Linked DNA regions of Homo sapiens. The protein of the gene in region 1 purifies or fractionates together with the protein of each later gene. This does not show direct contact. Each region holds a gene or a part of one and is shown in the gene's direction. Other genes may lie near its edges.

Region 1 (3,656 bases):
TGTATGATTCACTGACATTTATAAGATTTTTTTGGCCTAGTTAAGTGTTGATTTTTTATACATTTCATATTTGCTTGATAAGAATGTACATGATTACAATGTGTTAATATATCCATTAAATCATGCTTATTGTTACTCATATCTCCTGTATTTGAGAGATGAATGTTGAAATCTCCCTTTATTATGTTGAACTTGTGGTTTCTCCTTATAATTCTGCCTATGTTTGCTTTACATATTTGGAGGGTAGTTTTTGAAATGTATACAAGCTTAAGATTTTTATATCACCCTAATTAATTGAACCTTTTATTATTTTCTAGTGATTTTCTTTTGTCTTTAGTAGTGATTTTTGTTGTAAAGTGTAATTTGTCTAATATTGATAGACCTACATCAGCTTCCTTTTAGTTAGTATTTGTTACTTCTTTTTTCATACTTTTACTTTGAATATTTTTATGTTCGATGTATCTCTTGTAAGCATGATGGCTGGATTTTTTGAAATCCACTCTGTCCACCTTGACTTTTAACTGATAAACTTAGTTCTTTTATGGTTATTTTGGTTATTCATATAATTGATCTTGTTTCTTAGAATTATTCATATAATTGATCTTGTCTCATTCTGTGCTTTTTGTTTATCTCGCCTTTTCTGTGATTGTTCTTCTATTATAGAAAATGATGTAGTTGGATTTTTTTCCTATCATGCCTTATTTAAAATTTTTAAAATTGTTTCCAAATTTTTGTATTAAATTTTTTTCTTCTCTACTAATTTGGAAATTGTGCAGACTTTAAATCTAAAGTCAAACCATTTTCTTGGCTTTCCTCCTCACGCATACGAAGACTTTAAAACATTTTAATTCTGACACTTGCCTCCCTCTCAATTTACATGCTCTCATTGTCCAGAATATACAGGTAGTGTTTATTTTCACTTATTCATCTAGTTATTGCTTTCTGCTTCATTTTTTTCTTGCATCATATACCTTTCATCTGGGAATTGCCTTCTGCCTGATGTTCATCTTTGAGAATTTTCTTTATAGTAAGGGTCTGCTTGGTGTCAAATTCTTTTTTTAAAATCTGCAGATCTTTTTATTGCCCTCATTCTTGTAAGATACTTTTGCTGGATATGTATATTCTATACTGACAGTTATTTTCTGTTGTTGAAGATAACACTTCACTCCCTTCTGACTTACATTATTATTGTTGTTAAGTCAGCTGTCATTCTAATTGTTTCTTTGTAGATAACTAGTTTTAAAATGATTTTTTAAAATTTCTGGTTGCTTTTAATATCATCTCTTTGTCTTTGGTGAATGACAATTTCAGTACTATGTTTCTAGTTATGGATTTCTTATTTTTTTATCTTGTTTGGCATTTGTTGGCTTCTGAAATTAAGGGATTGGTGTTTTTCATCAGTTCTGGAAAATTCTCAGCATTTTTCTTTACATTGCTTCCGTCCCATGCATTCTCTTCTCTTTCCGGGACTTAGATTAGATGTATACTAGAACTTTTGGCTCTGGCTCCTATGACCCTTAACCTCTCTTTCATATTTTCTATCTCTTTGCTTCTCTGTGATCTGAAACCAGACAAGATCGAGGTAGGTAAATATGAAAGCCAGATTTGCCCAACTGGCAAATGCATATATTATCCCTGGGATCCAGTCACAAAGCCTTGAATTCAACCCAAGACAGGAAAGTTGCAATTGAGATGTTTTCATTAAGACCAAACCTTTGAGGGGCTAAAGCATAACATCTGGCCTCCTGGCAGGTATAAACCTAGATGCTGTGTGAAAGTACTCCGAGTTGAAGGCCTCAGAATTCTCATATATTAAGTTCAACCAAATATGAGCTTATAATAAAAAACATTTTTGAAAAAGGCACTATGAGTGAAAACACAAACAACTAACTTCATATTTGAACATCTAGAAACTTCAAATACTAGAATTTTTTTTCTTTGTTTGAACTTAAGTGTATAATTTAAGAAATCCTTAATAAAATGAAAATTAGAATCAAATTGTATATATTGTGGTCACAATAAAGCAGCTTTGATATTCGTATCTATTAGAAATATATTATTGTTTTCCTAGACATATGTTCTGATTTTTAAAAACTTAATTATCAATATTCCTTCAACCCTTTTTTCCCCTGGAATTTTCAGGCGTAACATTCATGGGGTAAGCAAAGAAAAAATAACAAGAATGTTGGAACATTATCAACGTTTTGTTTCAGTGCCAATAATTATGAGTTCTTCGGTTCCAGAGAAAATTGAACGTATTGAGTTGTGTGCATATTCTTGTGAGGATAGAAGCACTAGGTAGGTTAAAATGCCTTATGTACAAAATTCAATTTGAAATATAATTTTTAAAAGGTATAATTTTGGAGCTTGTGGAATCATTGCTGATAAACTTTAAAAATAAGGTGGACTTGGCTGGGTGTGGTGGCTCACACCTGTAATCCCAGCAGTTTGGGAGGCCGAGGCAGGTGGATCACCTGAGGTCAGGAGTTCGAGACCAGCCTGACCAACATGGAGAAACCCGTCTCCACTAAAAGTACAAAATTAGCCTGGCTGGTGGCGCATGCCTGCAATCTCAGCTGCTTGGGAGGCTGAGGTAGGAGAATTGCTTGAACCCTGGAGGCAGAGGTTGCGGTGAGCTGAGGTTGCGGTGAGCCGAGATTGCGCCATTGCATTCCACCCTGGGCAACAAGAGCAAAACTCCATTTCAAAAAATAAATAAATAAATAAGGTGGACTTTTGTTATTTTTAAGGATTTACTTATAGTCTTACCTAGGGTGGGATATATGTAGTTATCAAGAGAAGTACAAGTTCATATGAGAGATGACATGACAGTTCTTTTATTGTCCTCAGAGTTTTGTGAGTCCGTGATTATGCTATGAATTCTCCTGCCAGTTTTACTTGACGCTCGCTGCTAATCCAGTATTTCCCTTATCTTCTCGCTGTTATTATTTTGTATCCACTCAAATCACTTCTTAATTTCCTTAAGTTTTAATGAAAATACTCTTTCAAGCTAGTGTTATAAAAATTATTAACAGTACACTTTTACCAAGTAATACAAGTCATGGCCTTCTGACAATTTGCAATCCAAGGTAGCACTGATTCTGTTTAGCAACGAAGACACATAAACAATTGAATAAATAAAAACAGCATTAACTGACAGACAGAGTAAAGAAGAAACCACAGGTCTGAATTATCCATATGTTTTGATGGTAAGGGATAGAGAGCTTCTGTTAAAAAGGAGTTGGGAATGGGGAAGAGAAAATTTATAAATGCTTTTTTGATTGAGAAACAGTGTTGCAAAGTGGTTAAGAGCATGGACTCTTGAGCTATATTTCCTGGGTTCAAAAAGTCCCAAAGCTTTGTCATCTCTGACAAGTTACAAATCTTTCTGTACTTCAGCTCTTCATTTCTAAAATGCCAGTAATAACACTCTGCTCATAAAAATCTTATAAGGATTATGAATTAGTACATGCAAGGGACTTAAAGTAGCATCATCTAACACATAGAAAACTCAGCGTTAGGTATGATTTCACTTAGGAAGGCATCCTGCGAGAGTTGGGACTTCGAGCACTCCTGAAGTTAAAAAAAAGAGGAAATGCATTGACAAATTTAATCGAGAAAAATTAACTAAAGTTGAGAGTATAATGATTTGCACA
Region 2 (3,656 bases), on another chromosome or scaffold:
GGAGATACCCAACATTTTATTTAAAAATAGGATTTGTGTTAGATGACTTTGCCCAGTTGTAGGAACATGCAAGTGTTCTGACCATGTTGAAGCTGGGCCACGCTAAGCTCTGATGTACAGTAGGTTAAGGGTATTAAATGCATTTGAACTTATGACATTTTCAACTTAAACAGGATAGAGTCCCATCATAGGTCAAAGAGCATCTGTATTGATTTTCACTTACTCGTTTGAGTCTTATACCACCATACCCATTACCTTGGGCCTTGGCAGTATTCGGATGCAAAGTGGCCCATCAGCAAAGAGAATCTATGATTCAATGACATGGTCAGCACTTTTGACTCTGGGTAGGGTTTCTTTCTGCCCACAGTGGAGCAATTTAAAAACCCAAGTACTCTGATTTCCTGGGTTATTTGTGAGCCAGGTGGCCTTGTGCATGGCTCAGCATGGCCCGCTTTCAGCCTGGCAGTGAGGACTGCAGGGGCTGAGCTACGGGCATTCTGGCAGCTCTGTGCGTGGCTGGATGTACCACGGCCTTGGGCACACTCAGGCCCAGGCCCTGATGGCGGCACATCCATCTGTGCCCTTCAGCTGGCGGGGAACCTGCTGGACAAGCTGGTGCTTCTGTGCTGCTGCCCACGGGACACCCACACGATTGGATTGTCCTCGTGAGGCCCAGTGGCCGGTGGGAATGCGTGAGAAGGATCAGTCTTGCCATTGTCAACCCTTTTTACAGGATTTGGCTTGGCAAGGCCGTTTTCCTCTGCAGCTGGGAGAGTGATATTCACATATATTCAGTTGTTGGAGCCCCGGGTCTGTGACTAATTTACTATTATTAAATCACTGATGTTCTATATCGTTCAATTCCAAGCCCTTGGATTGAGCACCTGCTGTGTCTTTGCCACTGTGGTAGGTACTGTGGTGGCTGCTGCTTTTGTAGCTTTACTTCTAGCACTTCACTGTGTTCATTCACTTAATCCTCAGAGCAGCTCTATGAGGCTGCCACCACCTTACTCCCGTTTTATAGACGAGCAGCAGCACCTGCTAATTAAGAGTGAAGCCAGCTGCCCAGGGCGACGGCTTTAGCTGGGATGCCACCCTCCTGGTCTGGCTCAGCCGCCTTCCAGAAGCTCACAGGATAGTTGATAGCCCTTCCCTCTTTCCTAGGAGTTTTGCAAAGGAAATTTTATTTCCCCATTTCATTTTATTTTTATTTGTGAAAAGGTAATGCACGTAGTTCAAAGTTGACAAGGATGCAGAGGAAAAGTGAATCATCCCATGGCATCCCCAGGCACCTGGTGTATCACCCTAGATACAGTGTGTTTTCGTACAACTTTCTTAAATTCTAAGCAAATACAAGTAAATATACCTACATTTATTTTTCCTTTTTAAAATGCAAATGGTACTTCCTGTATTCCGTTCTGTACCATTCTTTCTTTTTTTTTGAGATGAAGTCTCACTCTGTCACCCAGGCTGTAGTGCAGTGGTGTGATCTCAGCTCACTGTAAACCTCCTCCCCCTGAGCTCAAGTGATCCTCCTTCCTCAGCCTCCCAAGTAGCTGGGACCACAGATGTGCGCCACCATGCCCGGCTAAGTTTTTGTATTTTTGGTAGAGTCGGGGTTTCACCATGTTGGCCAGGCTGGTTTCAAACTCCTGAGCTCAGGTGATCTGCCCGCCTCTACCTCCCAAAGTGCTGGGATTACAGGTGTAGCCACATGCCCGGCACTGTACCTTGCTTTTCAAAAAAATTCAGGCAGTATGTCTTATCGATCATTCATGTTATTACATGAAGAAAATTTTATTGTTCTTAAGACCGCAAGGTGTTTCTTTATATGAATGAGCCATCATTTATTGAGTGAGGCCGTGATTGATGAACATTTAGACTTTTCCCAGTCATTTGCTATTATAGGCACTGCTACAGTGAATAACCTCATTTTTTTCATGTACAGATATGTCTGTAGAATAATTCCTAGAAGTGGAATTCCTGATCCAAAGTCGTATGTTAAAAGTTATTTAAAACCCAATTACATGTTGTTTACAAAAAAGTGCACTCTAAGCATAAAGACGTAAACAGGTTGCAGGTAGAAGGGTGGAAAAATATAAACCATGTACATACTAAGCAAAGAAAGCTTTGCATCTATACTAGTATCAGAAAAAGTAGATTTCAAGGTGAAGAGTATTCCCAGAAATAAAGGGGCACCTCATAAAGACAGTGATCATCAAGGAAACGTAACAATCTCTAAATGTGTATGCACTTGTGTTAGGGGCCTCCAAGACCACCTCCCAGGTTTGAAGAGTCTCTAAGAGGACTCACATGACTCAGCATGTAGTCATACTCTCAGCTAAGGTTGATCCAGCAGAAGGATACAGAGCAAGATCAGCAAAGGGAGGAGGCATATGGGGGATGTCTGAGGGAAGAGGGTACAAGCTTCCAAGAGTCCTCTCTCAGTTGAGTCACACAGGATGCGTTTGATTCCTCCAGCAATGAATTGTAACAACACACGTGAAATGTTGTGTAGCATGTCCAAAATTCCAGACTCTCAGAAGGGAAACACGTGTTTAGCATAAGCCACAGTACATAAACAGTTTAGGCACAGTGAGCTCCTCTTACCAGTTAGGTGGTAGGAACTCTCTTGAAATCTAAGTTCCCAGACTCCAGCAAAAGGGCAGACTTCTAAGCTGGTCTTTCAAAGCATAACAGTAAGGTCTGTTCTGATAACTCTTTTGTACAAAAGAGCAAAATTGGACAGAACTAAAGGGAACTATATTCAGATTCATAATCATGGTTGGAGACTTTTAACTCTTCTTCTCTCAATTATTGAAAAAACAGATAGATCAGAACACTCATAGGGATTTGGAAGCTCTGAAGAATACCGTCAATCACCTTGTCATCTCTTAACGCTACTCCCAAGAAAGCTAGAGTACACATTCTTCCCAAGTGTACCATCAATCACCCTGTCATCTCTTAAACACCACTCCCAACAAAGCTAGAGAACACGTTCTTCCCAAGTTCATATGGAACAGTCACCAAGATAGACCGTATGCTGGGCCATTAAAATGTCCCAATAAGCTTCAAAGGACCCAAATTATAGAGTATGTTTATCGACTACTGTGCTTTTAAGTTAGAAATAAATAATATGAGATCTAGAAAATCCTCAAATAGGAAATTAACATACTGGATCAAAGAAGAATTAATAGGGAAATTAGAAAATAATTTGAACTGAGTAATGGAAGAAAATATACAGATTTATAGGATATAACTAATACAGTTCTTTGAGGGAAATGTATAGCTTTACATGACTATATTAGAAAAGAAGAAGGTATAAAATCAGTGACGTCTGTTTCCTCCTTAACAACCTAAATAAAGGAACAAATTAGATACAAACCTAAATAAAGGAACAAATTAGATACAAAGTAACTAGAAGGAAGGAAATGGTAAATACAGTTATGCATGGTTCCTTGACAGTGCCGACACATTCTGAGAAATGGTGTTAGGTGATTTTGTCATTGTGCAAACATCATAGGATGTACTTACGTAAACCTAGAGGGTAGAGCCTGCCTCACACCTAGGCTCCATGGTATAGCCTGTTGCTTCTAGGCTACAAACCTGTATGGCACATTACTGTACTGAATACCATTGGCAATTGTAACACAACG

Evidence for each region.
Region 2: the proteins of N4BP2 (region 1) and NPHP4 purify together in Homo sapiens (co-immunoprecipitation; one large-scale study listed by IntAct). This does not show direct contact.

Annotation. Positions count from the first base shown.
Region 1 is NC_000004.12:40,115,727-40,119,382, forward strand, and holds part of N4BP2 (NEDD4-binding protein 2), read left to right. Parts: intron 1-2,142; coding exon 2,143-2,298; intron 2,299-3,656. UniProt on the Homo sapiens protein: Has 5'-polynucleotide kinase and nicking endonuclease activity. May play a role in DNA repair or recombination.
Region 2 is NC_000001.11:5,982,321-5,985,976, reverse strand, and holds part of NPHP4 (nephrocystin-4), read left to right. Parts: intron 1-3,656. UniProt on the Homo sapiens protein: Involved in the organization of apical junctions; the function is proposed to implicate a NPHP1-4-8 module. Does not seem to be strictly required for ciliogenesis. Required for building functional cilia.